Regions from separate parts of the Homo sapiens genome. Here region 2 is linked to region 1. A link means that fine-mapping ties the variant in region 1 to the expression of a gene that starts in the linked region. Tissue or cell type: whole blood. Region 1 holds a variant in brackets; the other region holds the start of a gene. All regions are shown on one strand. Distances are from middle to middle.

The links. PIP is the estimated chance that this variant, and not a neighbour inherited with it, causes the effect.
Region 2: it holds the start of IFNGR1, and the variant in region 1 is fine-mapped to the expression of IFNGR1 in whole blood (TOPMed, PIP above 0.99).

Annotation. Positions count from the first base shown.
Region 1 is chr6:137,261,496-137,269,682 of GRCh38, forward strand. No RefSeq gene overlaps it. Among named protein-coding and RNA genes, the nearest start is that of IFNGR1, 46 kb to the left of the region's middle. The variant C/A (reference allele first, on the strand shown) is at 3,550.
Region 2 is chr6:137,215,825-137,224,011 of GRCh38, forward strand. IFNGR1 (interferon gamma receptor 1) reads right to left here and starts at 3,561. Exons shown (of 7, transcript NM_000416.3): 1 at 3,419-3,561. The coding sequence starts at 3,503. RefSeq lists enhancers at 1,701-1,760, 3,201-3,931, 3,782-4,031 and silencers at 2,742-2,791, 3,252-3,471, 3,512-3,741.

The DNA.
Region 1 (8,187 bases):
AAATAGAGAACAGAACATTCTCCAGTTATGGCCTCATTGTTTTGTTTGTTCTTGGCAAAGTTTCCACTGACATAACTCAGTAAACTTTTACATCTGAGTTCAATGGAGTGTTTTTAAATGGTTGTGGACAAGAGGTTCGTTCATTGTTGATGTAGAATTGAGTACAGAATATACTTTGCTTAAATTACTTTCACTATTTTTTCTCATAATATTCTTGAAAGTCATCTATTAATGCAGTTCTTACATAAAAGGAAGAGATAACTAAAAAGGATATAGAGCCAGGAAGTAAATTGTTTCCCCAAACACTTCAAACAATTTAAATGTTCAAATATAGAGTTATTTGTGAATTTGCAAAGTAGCAAATCAAATGGGTAATTCTCAAAGCCTTGTGTTTGAAGTGATGAGAAGCAAAGCCTTTTCAAGTTTATGTAAATAATTGACCACTTCCTTGAAAAAGTTTTAAGATTTCTCTAGAGACAAGGTGAATCATATCAAGTGGCCTAAATAAACTTTAGTTTTGAATGAGCAAATAGCTCAAGGCAAGGTGGTGGTTTTACCAAAGTAAAAAAAAGAAGAAGTTGTCAAGAATGAAGCTTGCCAAAAAATTTTCAAAAACTAAGATGGCAAGATTTTCTTTGGAGGGTTATGAAATGTTCTGAAGTTAGACAGTCTAGAATTAGATGGTTCAACAGCTGAGTGAATTTACTAAAAACACTGAATTTTACACTTTATCAGGGTGAATTTTATGTTATGTTAATTAAATTTCGGTGAAGCACTTATTAAATGAAATTGTAATAAGAGGATGTAAGAAGATTCAGTCACAAAATATACACATATACCACACAAATTTAAAATGCTTTTAGCTAAAATATTAAAAGACAAGCTAGTCACTTTGGAACCCAAATTCATTGTCTGAAAGATTTTTAAAAATCTTAAAGAGAAAGAAATGAAGATAAAGCAATCATGAGTGAAAAAAATAAACAAACTTGGATGATATAACCAGAAATAACACATAAATGAAATAATTTCAGAAGAACAAGATATATGCACTTTAAAAGTAATATGGAAAAGCAAGGGACCCAGAATAATCAAAAGAATCCTTAAAAAGAGGGACAAAATTGGAGGACTCACATTTACTTCAGAACTTACTACAAAGTTACAGTAGTCAAGCCAGCATGATACTGACATAAGGATAGACACATAGATCAATGGAATACAGTCAGTCTAGAAGCCAGCCTACATATGCAAGACATTATGGAGGGTCTTCAAAAAATTTAAAAATAGAACTACTATGTGATCCAGCAATCCCACTACCGGGTATATATCTAAAGGAATCGAAATTGGGATTTCAAAGAGCATTTGCACTCCTGTTCATTGCAGCATGAACCTAAGTAACCTAAATATTCATCATGGATGAATGGGTAAAGAAAATGTGTTATATATATACAGTGGAATATTGTTTAGCCCTAAGAAAGAAGGAAATCCTGCCATTTGTGACAACATGCATAAGCCTAGAGGACTTTATGCTAAGTGAAACAAGTTAGACACAGGAAGACAAGTACTACTTGATGCCACTTACATAAGGAATCTAAAATAGTTAAACTTGTAGAAGCAGAGAGTAGAATGGTGGTTGTCAGGAGCTGGGGAAAGGGGGATATAGGGAGCTATTAGCCAAAAGTTGCAAAGTTTCAGTTATAAAAGATGAGTAAGTCCTAGAGATCTACTGTATAACATAATACCTATAGTTAACAAAACTGTATTACATCTTAAAAATTTGCTAAGTGGGTAGATCTTATGTTTTATCACATACTACACACACACACATGCACACACACACATACACAAATAATTATAAATATAGAGGGTAGGAGGAAACTGTTTTGGAGGTGATGGGTATGTTTAGATTGTGGTAATGATTTCACAGATGTATATTTAGCCTCAAACTCATCAAGTTGCATACATTAAATATGTACAGCTTTTTGTATGTCAATCACACCCCAATAAAAGTTTTTTTAAAAATCCTGCACACACACACATATATACATGTGTATATATGTATATAAATATATACATGTATATAAATTTATTTTAGATAAGATTGCCGAGACAATTCCAATGGGGAAAAGAAGTCTTTCCAAACATGCTGCTGGGACAACTGGATCTCTACATGCAAAAGAATGAACTTGAACTACTATTTCACACTATATTAAAACAATTATCAATTATTTTGTGACTGAAGGCAATTAAGAAGCAGCAAATGGAAAAAGCTCTCGCTGTCTTCCCCTTTTCTGCCTCAAGGTAGGATATAAATTCTCGTTTACTGGACACAACTCTAGACTCTATTCACCCAGAGAAAGCACCAGAAGAATCTGCAAACAAACGTTACTTCATTAGTTTACCCCCATATAGTTATTTTCCCACTGTTTCCTACCCCGAAAGGAAATTGCCTTCCTTTGTCCTGTCATTTCTCTATAAATTTATTGTTCTTTGTTGAAGATGCGATACAAGCCAGAGTTCTAAGCAACTGCTTTGAGTTACTTTTCATTGAGGTTTTTCCTGCATGGTGTTCACTGTATGTGTTAATAAACTTGTTTGTTTTTTTCTTGTTGATCTGCTTTTGTTACAGGGGCTTGTCTCAACTGAGAACTTACACAGGGACAGGTAATCTGTAGCTTCCCTGACAACTGAAATGAAAGAGCTAAAATTACAAAACTCTTAAAAGAAAACATGGGATTTGCTATGGTTTGAATGTCCCACCAAAACTCATGGTCAAATTTAATTGCCATTGGGGTAGTACTAGGAGGTAAGACCTTTAAGAGGTGTAGATCATGAGGGTTCTGCCCTTGTGAACGGATTAATGCTGTTATCAGGGTAGTGGATTAGTTATTGAGGGAGAGGACTCCAGCATAAGTTTGACCTCCATTTTCTCCCTGTCTCATTTGTCACCTGCCTTTCTGCTTTCAGCCATGGTGTGATGCAACAAGAAAGCCCTCACCAGATGGCTAAGCAGATGCTGGCACCATGCCTTTGGACTTCCCAGCCTCCAAAACTGTGAGCCAAATAATCTTTTGTGTATAAATTATCAAGTCTGTGATACTCCGTTATAGCAGCAGAAAACAGACTAAGACAAGATTAAATCTTTGTGACCTTGGGCTAATCAATGATTTCTTAACTATGACAATCACATATCGGATAAGAGCCTTAATTCACAATATATAAAGAACTTTTATAATTTAACAATGAAAAGACAACACAATTTTAAAAGGGCAAAGTATTTGAATAGACATTTCTCCAAATAAGTTATATAAATGGCCAATGAGCACGTGGAAAGATGCTCAACATCTGTTTGACATTAGGCAAATGCAAATCAAAACCACATTCACTAGGATAGCTACAGTAATTAAAAAAGGAATGATAGTAAGTGGTGAGGATGTGGAGAAATTGGAACCCTCATATATTGTTGGTGGGTATGTAAAATGATGCAACCACCGTGGAAAGCAGCTTGACAGCTCCTCATAAAGTTAAACATGGTGGTACCACAGGACCCAG[C/A]AATTCTACTCTTAGCTATATATGTCCAAGAGAGATGGAAATTTAAGTCCACACAAAAATTTAATTTGCCATTTTCATGGCAGCATCATATATAATGGCCAAATATTGGAAACAACCCAAATGTTCATCATCTGATGAATGGATCAACAAAATGAGGTATATCTATACAATGAAATAGGATTTGGCAACAGAAGAAAGAATGGAGTACTGACACAGGCTACATCATGGATGATCCTTGTAAATACTAAATAAAAAAAGCAAGTCATAAAAGATCACATATTGTATGATTTTATTTATGAGAAATGTCTAGAGTAGGCAAATCTACAGAGACAAAAAGTACATTAGTGGGCACCTAGGGCCAAAGAGGGGAGAGAGAATGGGCAGTGATGGCAGCAGGGTGTTTGGAGGAGGGCTGGTGATGAAAATGCTCTAAAGTTATAGAGATGTTTGCACAAATATATTAATATATTTTAAAACATTGAATTGTATATGTTAAATGATTGAATTTTATGGTATGTGACACATGTCAAGAAAGATGTTTTTAAAAATAGTTCAGGAAAATGGATATATATACAAATTATGCAACTAGTTCACTTTCCAGAATCCCATAAATTAAAACTCCTATGACTTGTAAATCTTCTAGATCTTAGACCGGATTATCATAAGCCTATTCTTAACTAGAAATTTCCTGGACACATGCCAAGGAATAAAAACTCTTGGCTGGGTGCGGCGCCTTAGAAACCCTGAGAGACAAGTATTATCTTCTAATCAACAAAACTGGTAGATGATTAAATTATTGGTTCAGAGTACAGGCTTTTTGCTAGACAGAAACATCCAAAACTTAATACTTAATAAAGGAAATTAAGAACAGAGATTTTTCATAGTGGAAACCTTGTTAAGATTACCGAGGCTTACAGGAGATAGTACCAGAGCATGCATGTATTTGGCAGCTACTGAGAGTCTGCTATTTGCCAGAAGATATTAGACACTGGAAAGAAATGTTTAAAAGGCTGAGTCCCTGCCCTAAGGGAGCTTATGGTCCAGGGAAGAGACACAAATGCGTTTCATATCACATGTTAAGTGCTGCGGGGAGGGTATGCAAGGAAACGAAGGGACAGAGAAGAGAGTTGGTCACCCTGGTTGGGAGACCAGAGATGCCTCCTCAGAGGAGTTTCTAGGAGAGGATCAGGGTTGGAGCAGGTGTGGGATTTCAAAGCACAGCCATCTGGAATGTGCACTCAGAAAGAAGAAAACCTCAGGGGACAAGGAGAGCCAGTGTCTGAAAAATGGCGCAAAAGGCTGTTCTCTTCTGTTATGCTATGTTTATGTTTCTTTGAGGAGGGAACTGTGTAAGAGGTAATGTGTGGTAACGTATTAGCACTTGAGAAGGAAATGCCTTTGACTCAGTGCAATTTCTTCCCCAGTAAGAATAATCTCCAAAGACTGCTAAAAATATAGAGGAGAAGCAAAGTGAAGTCTTCGTTTTTTCTTTTTTCATCTCTTCACAGCAGGTGAATTAACCCAAAATTCGTCATCATAGGAGCAGCAGTTCTTTTTTAACCTCACATACAATTTTACATTTTCCTTAAAAACTCTTTATTTCAAATACACACAAATGGAGAGAGGAGTGTGATAAAACCCCATATTCCTGCTGGCTTAGTCTGTTTTGTGTTGCTATAAAGGCGTACCTGTGGCTGGGTGGTTTGTAAGGAAAGAGGTTGAGTTAGTTCATGTTCTGCAGCCTGTGCAAGAAGCATGGTGCTGGCATCTGCTCTGCTTCTGGTGAGGACTTTTGTGCTCCATCAAAACATGGTGCAGAAGGTCAAATGGCAGGCAGGCAGGTGCAAAGATGGATCAAACCTGGGGGGCCTCTTGGCTTTAGAGCAACACACTCCCTTGGGAACTAATCCATCCCCTCAAAACCAATCCATCTCGGGACAGCATGAGAACTTACTCACTACCCTGAGAACAGCACCAAACCATTCATAACCCATGACCTGAACTCCTCCCACTGCACCCCACATCCCAACATCACCACACTGGGGATCAAATTTCAACATAATATTTGGTGGGGAACATACAAGTCATATTCAATCCATAGCAGCAGCCATCCAGATTTTAAAATAATCAACATTTTGCCCACTTGAATCACCTGTTTGCACCCCTTTTTTGTTGAAGAATTTTAAAGCAAATTCCAGGCAAAATGGCACTTACCACCTAGTATTTCAATGTGTCCCTAAAAGAGGGAAATATAACCAGTTACCACTATCACACCTAAATTCATAACAATAATTAATTAATATCTAATTCCCAGTCCATCCATATTCAAAGTTCATTGACTGTTTAATAAACTTGTTTTTTTTTTTTTTTTTTTGGACGGAGTTTTGCTCTTGTTGCCCAGGCTGGAGTGTAATGGCGTGATCTTGGCTTGCTGCAACCTCTGCCTCCCAGGTTCAAGTGATTCTCCTGTCTCAGCCTCCCGAGTAGCTGAGATTACAGGCGCCTGCCACCACGCCTGGCTAATTTTTGTATTTTTAGTAGAGACAGGGTTTCATCATATTGGTCTGGCTGGTCTCGAACTCCTGACCTCAGGTGATCCGCCCGCCTCAGCCTCCCAAAGTGCTGGGATTACAGATGTGAGCTACTGTGCCTGGCCAATAAATGTCTTTTTAAGATGATTTTTTTTTCCAAATCAAGATCCAAGCGAGACTCACATGTTACATTCAGTTGTCATGCCCCCTTGTACATCTGTAGCAAGCCCCTCTCCCCTCTTCTTTTCCCTTCCCATTGACTTAACTGAAAAAACCTGGTGTAATTGTCCCATAGAACAATGTGCATAGAATATACATTGTTCCACATTCTAGGTTTGCCTGATTACTTCCTCATGGTGACAGCATCATTCAACCAGCTCTTCTTCTTTGTATTTTTAGTAGAGACGCGGTTTCACCATGTTGGCCAGATGGTCTCGATCTCTTGACCTCGTGATCCACCCGCCTCAGCCTCCCAAAGTGATGGGATTACAGGCATGAGCCACCACACCTGGCCGAAATGTATTTCTTAAGTAATAAGATTTGAAAGTTGAAATTACTCCTTGATTCATTGGCTACAGAATGGATGTTGTGTTGAATAACATTCATCTCATTGTACATCTCTGTCAGAGCTCTTGAGTGACTAGATGCACTGTCAGTGAGTGATAATATTTGGAAAGAAATCTTTTTTTTTCTGAGCATTAAGTCTCAATAGCGGACTTAAAATATTCAGCAATTCATGCTATACACAGATGTGCTGTCATCCAGGTTTTGTTGTTCCACTTAAAGAGTGCAGGCAGAGCAGATTTAGCATAATTCTTCCTAGAGTTTTCAAAATGGCAAATGAGCATTCGCTACAATGTTAGGTCACTAGCTGCAATAGCCCCAATCAAAAGAGTCAGCTATTGCTTGAAGCTTTGAAGCCAGGCACTGACTTTTCTTCTCCAGCTATGAAAGTTCTGAAGAGCATCTTCTTCTAATATAAGACTGCTTTTTGTCCACAGACAATATGTTTCTTTTGCCCTCTTCATCAGTGATCTTAGCTGGCTTTTCTGGATAACGCTGCAGCTTCTCCATCAGCACTTGCTGCCTCACCTCGTACTTTTATGTTATGGAGATGGCTTCCTTCCTTAAGCTTCATGAGCCGACCTCTGTTAGCTCCAACTTTTCTTCTGCAGCTTACTCATCTCTCTCAGCCTTCGTAGAATTGAAGAAAGTTAGGGTGTTGCTCTGGATTAGGCTTTTGCTTAAGGGAATGTTGCGCCTGGCTTGATCTTCTATTGAGTCCACTCAAACTTTTTCCATACCAGCAATAGGGCTGTTTTACTTAGCGTTTGTGTGTCCACCCGAGTAGCACTTACTTTCCTTCAAGAACTTTTCCTTTGCATTCACAAGTTGGCTGTTTGCTGCAAAGGTCAAGTTTGGTGCAAAAGAAAAGTTCTTGGAAAGTAAAAGTGCTACTCTGCTACCTTGGTTGTCAACACGCCTTCCATGCTAAATGTAATCATTTCTAGAATTGGATTTAAAGTGAGAGATGTGTGACTTTTATTTTCACTTGAACACATAGAGACCATTGTGGAGTTACTAACTGACCTGATTTCAATATTATTGTATCTCAGGGAATAGGGAGACCTGAGAAGCAGGAGAGAGATGAGGAATGGCTGGTTGGTAGAGCAGTCATGGTAAAACATACATTTATTGATTAAGTTCATCATCTTATATGAACGTGGTTCATGGCACCCCCCAAAAACTACAATAATAGCATCAAAGATCACTGATCACAGATCACCATAATAGATAAAATATGAAAAAGTTTGAAATATTGTGATAATTGCCAAAATGTGACACAGAGACATGAGATGAGCACCTGTTGTGGAAAGTTGGCACCTATAGACTTGCTTAACACACAGCTGCCACAAAACCTCAATTTGTAAAAAACATCCGCATCTGCATAGCATCATAAAGTGAAGTGCAATAAAATAAAATATGCCTTTATTCAATGTTTTTCAACCAGTTGTAGTCATTACTGTTTTCACATCCTCAGATGTCACATTTGACAACGGAAAACCTTCAAGTGGATCTGTGTGTTCTGCTGGTATTTTCCTTGCTT
Region 2 (8,187 bases), 46 kb before region 1:
CCTCAGCCTCCCCAGTAGCTAGGACTACAGGCACATGCCACCACACAGGGTTAATTTTTGTATTTTTTTGTAGAGATGGGTTTTGCCATGTTGCCCAGGCTGGTCTTGAACTTCTGGGCTCCAGTGATCCTTCCGCCGATGTGCTGGGATTACAGGCATGAGCCACTGCCCCCAGCCTAGGTTTTCTTTTAGATAGAACCAAAATATGGTCCTTTCAAAGTCTGTGTGAATTATGAATCAGAATAAAATGAAAAAGAAAATTTAATACCCTATTCAATAAATATAATTAAAAAGTATTATCCTGTGTATTTTGAATCTCTGAAATAACTATAGAATCCAAAGAAATAGTGAAAAATTTAAACAGTACTCAGAGCTTTATCCTAAAGTCAGATAATTAGTAGGAAGCATAGCTGATAAACTGTACAAGGTCAGTGAAGAGCCTTCCAGTTGGTGTGAAGTCCAGCCTAGCTCTTCAGCTATTACTCAGAGTGGGACACTCATCTGGATGAAGAAAGCCAGTGGCACACCCTGATTCACTTAAAAATATATACTACTTTTATGTGTAAAAGTGCATGAAGAGTGAAATACTACTGATTAAGTGGCACACACAGATTTTATTTTCACTTAAGAAGTATTAATGAAAGCCCATGAATGTAACACAATACATTCCTAAACACCTGGATTTCCTGGAGACTGACTATATCACCATATTCACTTGTCTGCTTCCCTGTTCTTACCAGGTCCTCTCATCTAAGATGAACTTCAACTATAGAGTCAAGCCCAGCAACAGTAAGAATAAGGCTGGGAAGCTAAGCAAGAGCCAGAGCATTGTTGGTTTCTTCCTACTTTGGAGATTTTGTGTTTTAAATTAACTTTAAAAGAACAGGGAACACAACAAAATCTAGAGAAATGCACTGAAAAATCTAGAGAAATGTGTTAGAAATGCACTTTAAAAAGAGGGCTCACTGAAACTAATGAAAAGCAAGGCCGGGGTGCTTGTCTCTTCTAGGGGAGTCAGGAAAGGCTTCACAAAAGTGACCCCAGTTTTAGAACGAGAGGTACAGAGACAAATTCAAAAGTTTCTGCAGAATATAGAAGGCTGCAGTTGATCTTCCCACGGGAGGCAGACAGGCAATCCTCCTCCCAGAGCAAGCTACAAGGACGTGCAAATTGTGCACTCACAGGGGTCACACGGTGCACTCATAGGGCCCCGTATTCAGAAGGAAGGGCCTGGCACTTGCTTTAACGCTATGCCTGCGCTAGCGTTATCCTCTTTCTCTGCTGACATCCAGTCAGAGGCCTACTAACTCTTCCTTCTAAATGTTCTGCTAACTGTCCTCTTCTCCACTTAAACTACTTATCGACTCCAACTTAAGCAGCAGCCTCCTAATGGGCCTTGTGTTTACCCTCAAACTATTTTATAAGATGACTGGTCTTTCTAAATGGCATGTCTGATCCTGCATAAAATCATTTCCCTTTGTAATTGATAATCCAATGATGTCAGCATTAGTAAATAATGACTGACTTCAGCAAGGCATAGTGGGTGTATTATTTTGTTGGCTCAACACCTGTACTTCAGGCACGCCATTCCGCTTCTTCTGGTAACCCAACCCAACCCTCTACGAGAATGTCCTTCCCATGCAAGCTGGCACCTGAACCTAGCTGGGCAAATCAGAGCCTTTCCCTGGCATTTTGTTAGAATGGAGGAGGCTGCAAGATGTCAAAACTCAGAAGCTGTCAGCATCCATGATTCCTGCCAAGTGTGGAAAGCTGTCAATACCCAGACAGAAATAAGAAATGGAGAGTCCTAGCAGTTTGGGTTCCTGGTTCTAGCCTCTTGAGACCCAGCTGGCATCTATAATTTTCTGTTTAACTCTGGTTTTTCTGAGACAATAAATTCCTCTTTTTGCTTAAGTTAATAAAGCTAGGTTTCTTGCTGGTACACATAATATGGCAATTCATTATTTGGTTCCTACTTCTCCACCTAACCTATCTCCTCCCCTTGTAAGCTCTCACACACACTTTACAATAGAACGCTTAATATTCCACGAATTCAACATGCTATCACACCTCTGCACCTCAGTCTCTGCACCTCTGGTTCCAACACTGGGGTCACCTTTGTGAAGTCTTCACTGACTTCCCTAAAAGAGACAAGCACCCCGCCTTGCTTTCCACTAGTCTGTGCCTAAGTGCAAGCTCTTACCGCAAAGTACTGCAACTGCCCATGTGGATGACTGACTAGAGCCTAGAAGAGCAGTTAAGAACTTGGACTCTGGAGCCAAATTGAGCAGCTCCCCACTGAGTGGCTATGACCTCTCTGCCAGTTGGGCAGGCCTCTCCGTAACTCAATTTCTCGTCCATAAAGAGAGAGACAAATAACGCCTACTCCAGAAGATTGTTGTGAACACAGAACCAAAACGTGGACCTTTCAAAGTCCCTATGAATCATAAATCATAATAAAAAAAAGAAAACTGAATTGAAAAGGTTTACTGTTTTCTCTGGAGCTCGTAATCACAATTACTCTGCACTTCAGAAAAGCCACCCTCAACATTTGTTTTCTAGGAAATGTCAATAAGCAGGTGGAAATAAAATGCTCCGAAGAACAAACCCGTACGAAGAGACCTACTGCCAAATCTGCTAGTGAGTGCCGGCAATCCACCACTTCCAGACTGAGACCTAAGACGGACTGCCACTTACTTCTCAGCTGCCACTTACTTCTCAGCTGGCGACATAATGCATACTTTCCTACCCTAAGCACTTTGAGTCCCCCCCCCCACCCCCGCTAAGAAAGAAGTATTTAAGCCACGAACTGAGACCACGATGCCACATGCTGATCAGGACACTCACAGTCATGCGTCACTTAACGATGGAGATCCGTTCTGAGAAATGGAGAAATGTCCCCTTAGGCAATTTCTTCGGGCAGTAGAAACCCAGACAAACCCAGATGACACAGCCTACTGCTCTTAGGTCATGAACCTGTACAGCCTGTCACTGCACTGAACACTGCAGGCAACCGTAGCATACTAGTGAGTATCTGCGTATCTAACCATAAAAAAAGGTACAGTAAGAAGACGATATTATAATCTTTGAGACCACGCTGTCCCACATTGACCAGCAACGTCCTTCTGCAGCGCATAATCGTATTTAAAAGTGGATTACAAGAGTCGGAAAAACAAGCGGCGTGATTTGTTGTGGCGGCAACCAGGGAAGAGGCAGGAGAAAGGCAACCGACGAGTTCAAACCACGGAGCCCCAGTCTCGCGACCCCACCTCGCGTCCCCGTCGCCCGCTCAGGGCCCGACGCAGGGGTCCCGGGCTAGGGCGACCTCGGAGAAGCGGGGCGGGGCTTCCCGGCTGGGGCGGATCCCTCCCTCCCTCTCGTCCCGACCCGGCCGCAGCCCTGCCGCGAACGACGGTACCTGAGGACGGCCCCAGATCCGCGGTGCCCATCTCAGCCCTGCTCACACCCTGCATGACAAGGGGTAGGAGAAAGAGGAGAGCCATGCTGCTACCGACGGTCGCTGGCTCCAACCCCGAGCGCCTGCGGGACCAGCCCAGCACTGCCCTCCAGCCCCGGCCTTACGTCACTTCCGTCACCGGGGTCTGTGCCGGCGTCGGCAGGAGGCGGGACCAGGGCGTGGGCGGGGTCAAGTCCGGGAAGCCGCAGGAGGCGGACTCAGGCGCAGCACCCAGCAGTGAGCACGGCGTCGTGCGGTCGGGACCTGGACTTCTGGGTGTGGGAGGAATTTGAGTGCAAAGGTTAAGGTCTTTCAACCTGGCACCCCATTCTGCAATTCTTCTTCCAGTTTTTTTCGGTTTCCTGGGGTTGTGCAAGTTTGCATTAGGCCACAGCCGAGCCACAATCCTTATTTTACTAACTCTTGGACTTCACCTGGTTGTCTTGGAGCCTGACATTTTTAGAAGAGAATGAGACTTCAAAAGCCATTTCCAGTCCCTGCTTTTTCATTTGAGGAACCTGAGACTTAGCTAGTGAAATGGTTTGTGCAGATTCCCACAGCCCAAATCAAATCGGCTTGACCAAGAACTACTTTGTTCTTGGAGAAAAAAACTATTTGCATTACCTTCTCAGCAATTCAGTGTCAAATCAGTTTATCAGGCAGCCTCTCATGAAGAGGTCTGCTCTCTTACCTCTCTGGGTTTGTCTGTTATTTTGCATCTCTCCTATTCCACTGCAGCCACATTGCTAAGTCCTTCAGCGCTTGTGCTCAAACATGCGAATGTCTAATGATCTCACCTGTTTCAATTCTCTGAGTATCATGAACTTTTGTTAAAAATTTTAAATTGCAACACACCTTCTCCTCCTCCTTACCCCGCCCTACTGTTTTTTCATGGCACTTTTCACCTTGCTGTACACTATAATATACACCTTGATATTTGTTTTCTTCTCCTTCTAAAATGTAAGCTCCGTAGAGCTGACATCTTTACTTGGCACTCAATTAGTATTTGTTGAGTGAAAGACTGCATGATTACTAGTGTTAAGGAAAATTTTTAAAGAGGGAAAATCCTTATAAAGACACTATATAAACTAGAGGTATTATCAGCCAGATCATTTTACTTGTATTAATAAATCTCTTAGCTCAGTACTTCTCAAACTTCAACATACATGTGAACCATCTGGGGATCTTGATAAAATGCAGATTTGGATTCAGTAGTTCTAATTCAGGTTGGGTCTTGAGATTTTGTATTTCGGACAAAATGCACAGGGGATGCTGGTGCCCCTTTCAACAGGACCACACTTTGAATCAGAAGAATTTAGCTCAATCTAGACTAAGTTTAGGGAGAATATTTCCTTTGATGTGTTTCTGATGTCCACTATATGAAAGACACCTTCTAGTCGTTGTAAGGATGCAAGGATAAATAACTGATCTTTACCGTTTAGGCGTCTATGGAGTAGGACAAAATATGATATCCAGTTTGTAAACATTTTTGTGGTACTTGTCACAGGCTGGGTTACCCTGGCAGTAAACTCTGAGGTCGAGATTAAGGTATAAGGCATTGATTGATTAGGGAGTGCTCTTGGAATAAACGTCTGTGAAGGGGAGGTGGAGGAAGCAGAGCGGAGGAAGAAGTTGATCTGTGATGCCATCCCAGTAAAGGCTCCCAAGGGGCGCTCTGGAGTTGGGATGGCCTTGTAAAGGTGTCTTGAGTTGGTATGAGGGGCTGGGTCTTAAAGCCCAGCACTGATTAGTCATTGAATACCAACTGTCATGATTTTGGGGCTGTCCATTTCTTTCATGGAGGCATTCCCCAGAGGAACGCTGACGGTTGAGGGTGTCTACTGGCAGCCCTCCTAGCATCAGGAAGGGGACAGAACCCAGTCTTCTGTTCCTGAGAGGGATCTGGGCAAGTTTCACAATCACAGCACCCACCACCCTACGTATCCTTCTGAAGACTTTGCTAGTTAGTCATTTGGAGACTAAATATATTTATTAATTGGGTGAATATTATCAAGTGATACTGTCTGTGACTGACATGACCAGGCACAGAGATAAAGACCTGAGCAAGACAGACATGGCCCCTGCCCTCACGGAGCTTACTGTCTACTGAGGGAGATAGCTGTTAAACAAGGAATTACACAAGTACTGAAATCGTGATCATCATTCCCAAGGAGAGCAATGGGAAGAGATTAAAGGAGTATAAACAGGAATTTAACTTAGTCTACATTTTAAAGAAAGTCTTTCTTTTCTTTTTTCTTTCTTTTGAGACAGGGTCTCACTCTGTCGTCTAGGCTGCAGTGCAGAGGCATGATCATAGCTTACTGCAGCCTCAAACTCCTGGGCCCAAATGATCCTCTTGCCCCAGCCTCCCAAATAGCTGGGACTACAGGTGTACACCACCATGCCTGGCTAATTTTTTTTTTTTTTTTTGAGACAGGGTCTGACTGTATCACCTAGCTGAGGTACAGTGGCACAATCTCAGCTGACTGCAACCTCCACCTCCCGGGCGCAAGCCATCCTTCCACCTCAGCCTCCCAAGTAGCTGGGACCACAGGCATTTTTTTGTGTCTTTTGTGGAGATGGGGTTTCACCATGTTGCCCAGGCTGATCTCAAACTCCTGAGCTCAAGCAATCCGCCCACCTTGGCCTCCCAAAGTGCTGGGATTACAGGAGTGAGCCACCTCGCCTGGCCTTATGCCCGGCTAGTTTTTAAATTTTTTATAGAGCTGGGGTCTTGCTGTGTTGCTCAGGCTGGTCTCAAACTCCTGGGCTCAAATGATTCTCCTGCCTCAGGCTCCCAAAATGCTGGGATTACAGGTGTGAGCCACTGTGTCTGGATTTAGGGAAATTCTTTTTTAAGGAAGTTACCATTATGTTGTGACCTGAAGGATAAGGTAAAATTAGCCTGAATAAAGTTAAAAGATGGGGGTGGCCACCGGCTAATAAGAGAGGTAGGAAGAAGAGCAATAAACTGTATTTTAAAATCCCATATAAAAATCTCATACAGCTAACACAGAAACAAATGAGCGGTGCCAGCTTTCCTTGATAAATTTCCAATGCCTAATGGCTGGGGAATATCCAAGTATACGTTGGTCCCCACTAGAGCCTCAGATTAGTTTTTAAAATGAAGAAAACAAATTGGGGTGGAGCGTAGATCATTCCAAAGCCAAGTGTATACTGAAGTGCTGCTGCTCAGGAGCAAGGCTACATTTTGAAGACCATACTCACCTGCCTTTCAAGTTAATAGGCCAAATAAAACAATTTAAGAAGCTAGAAATATGATCCAATGAGAACAGAGCCTGTGTGTGTGGAACAAACTGTGCATTTTGGCTCTGAGCACAGTGCATTTCCTTCCTCTTTTCTCCAAAGCAGAAATGTCTGCCAGCTTCCCTTTAAAGGAGACAGCGTGAAGATTTGTAACTGAAGCATATAGTTTAAATTCCGCTGATTAGTCTGTAAATTATAGCCAATACTCTTGCCCTCTCACACTCTACCCATGCCTTTACACTGGCCCTTATTTAACTTTGTTTATTCCATAGTACTTACTACTATCTGGAGATTCTACTGGAAATTTAATATATCTATTAAATTTGAATTAAATATGAATAAATTGTATGTGTTAAATATATGCATTTTATATATATATATATTTCACAAATAATTACTGAAATTGTAGTAATTGTTACCAAGGAGAGCAACACGATTATAGGTGCGTAAACAGGGACTTAATCTGAGATTTAATGAAATGCATCCGTGTGTGTGTGCATACATAAAATATGTATATACACACGTAGAAAATTTTGTTTCAGTAGTCTCCCTCTTCCTCTAAAAAATAAATTTGTTTTCTTCACTGTCAGACCCCGAGCACCTAGCCAAGTGCCTATTACTCCATTAATATTTATGGAATATTGATGATCCTGAATCATCAATTGTATGTAATCCTGAATCATCACTGTCAGCATTGAGCAGCTGAACCAATGTCTGTGGCCACTTATTAAATAAATATATGATGAACAAAACAAGCTTGTAAAGAGGTGTGGGACTGAAGCAGGTATAGTTGAATTTATGGCTGGCTAAGCTATAATTGGGTCACTGATAAGAATTTAGAGAGATATTTGGATATCATACTGGTACTCAACAAAGCACTATCCTCTTGCCTTGCACTCAACCCTCCTCTTAGCTCTCATGCTGACATCCGATTGTATCAGACCAACCCCTGGCTTGAAGATGTTTATCCATAGACAGTCAAGTATTCTAGTAGTTGGCTTGTCTTAGAGCACTGCCTAGGGTAGATGCCACATGCTGCGTGGTGACTGTGGCAGATACTACTCATTAGCTGACTGCTAACAGCTCTTTTCGGTCCCCTTCTATCTTGCTGCCTCCCTACTGCAGAGGCTAGACAGGCTCATTACTCACTTTCCCAGCCTTTTTGGCAGCTAAGTGTAGGTATATGATGTAGTTTTGGTCAGCGAAACACAAGCAGAAGTCTGTGAGGCATGTGTGTGTGTGGTGGTCATCAGGTGTATAATGGGGAAGAGGATTGGAAAGCATTCTGTGAGAACTTTTCCTTTCTCATAGAAGGGGCAGATGCAATGGGAGAGTTTGCTGGCCTTGGCCCTTTTCCAATCTTCTTGCCTTGAATGTAGATCCAGTGACGCCTAGATCTGCAGCAGATCTTGGCAGTTTGCAACCATGAGGCAACAAGATTGAAGATGAAAAGTCAACAGCTA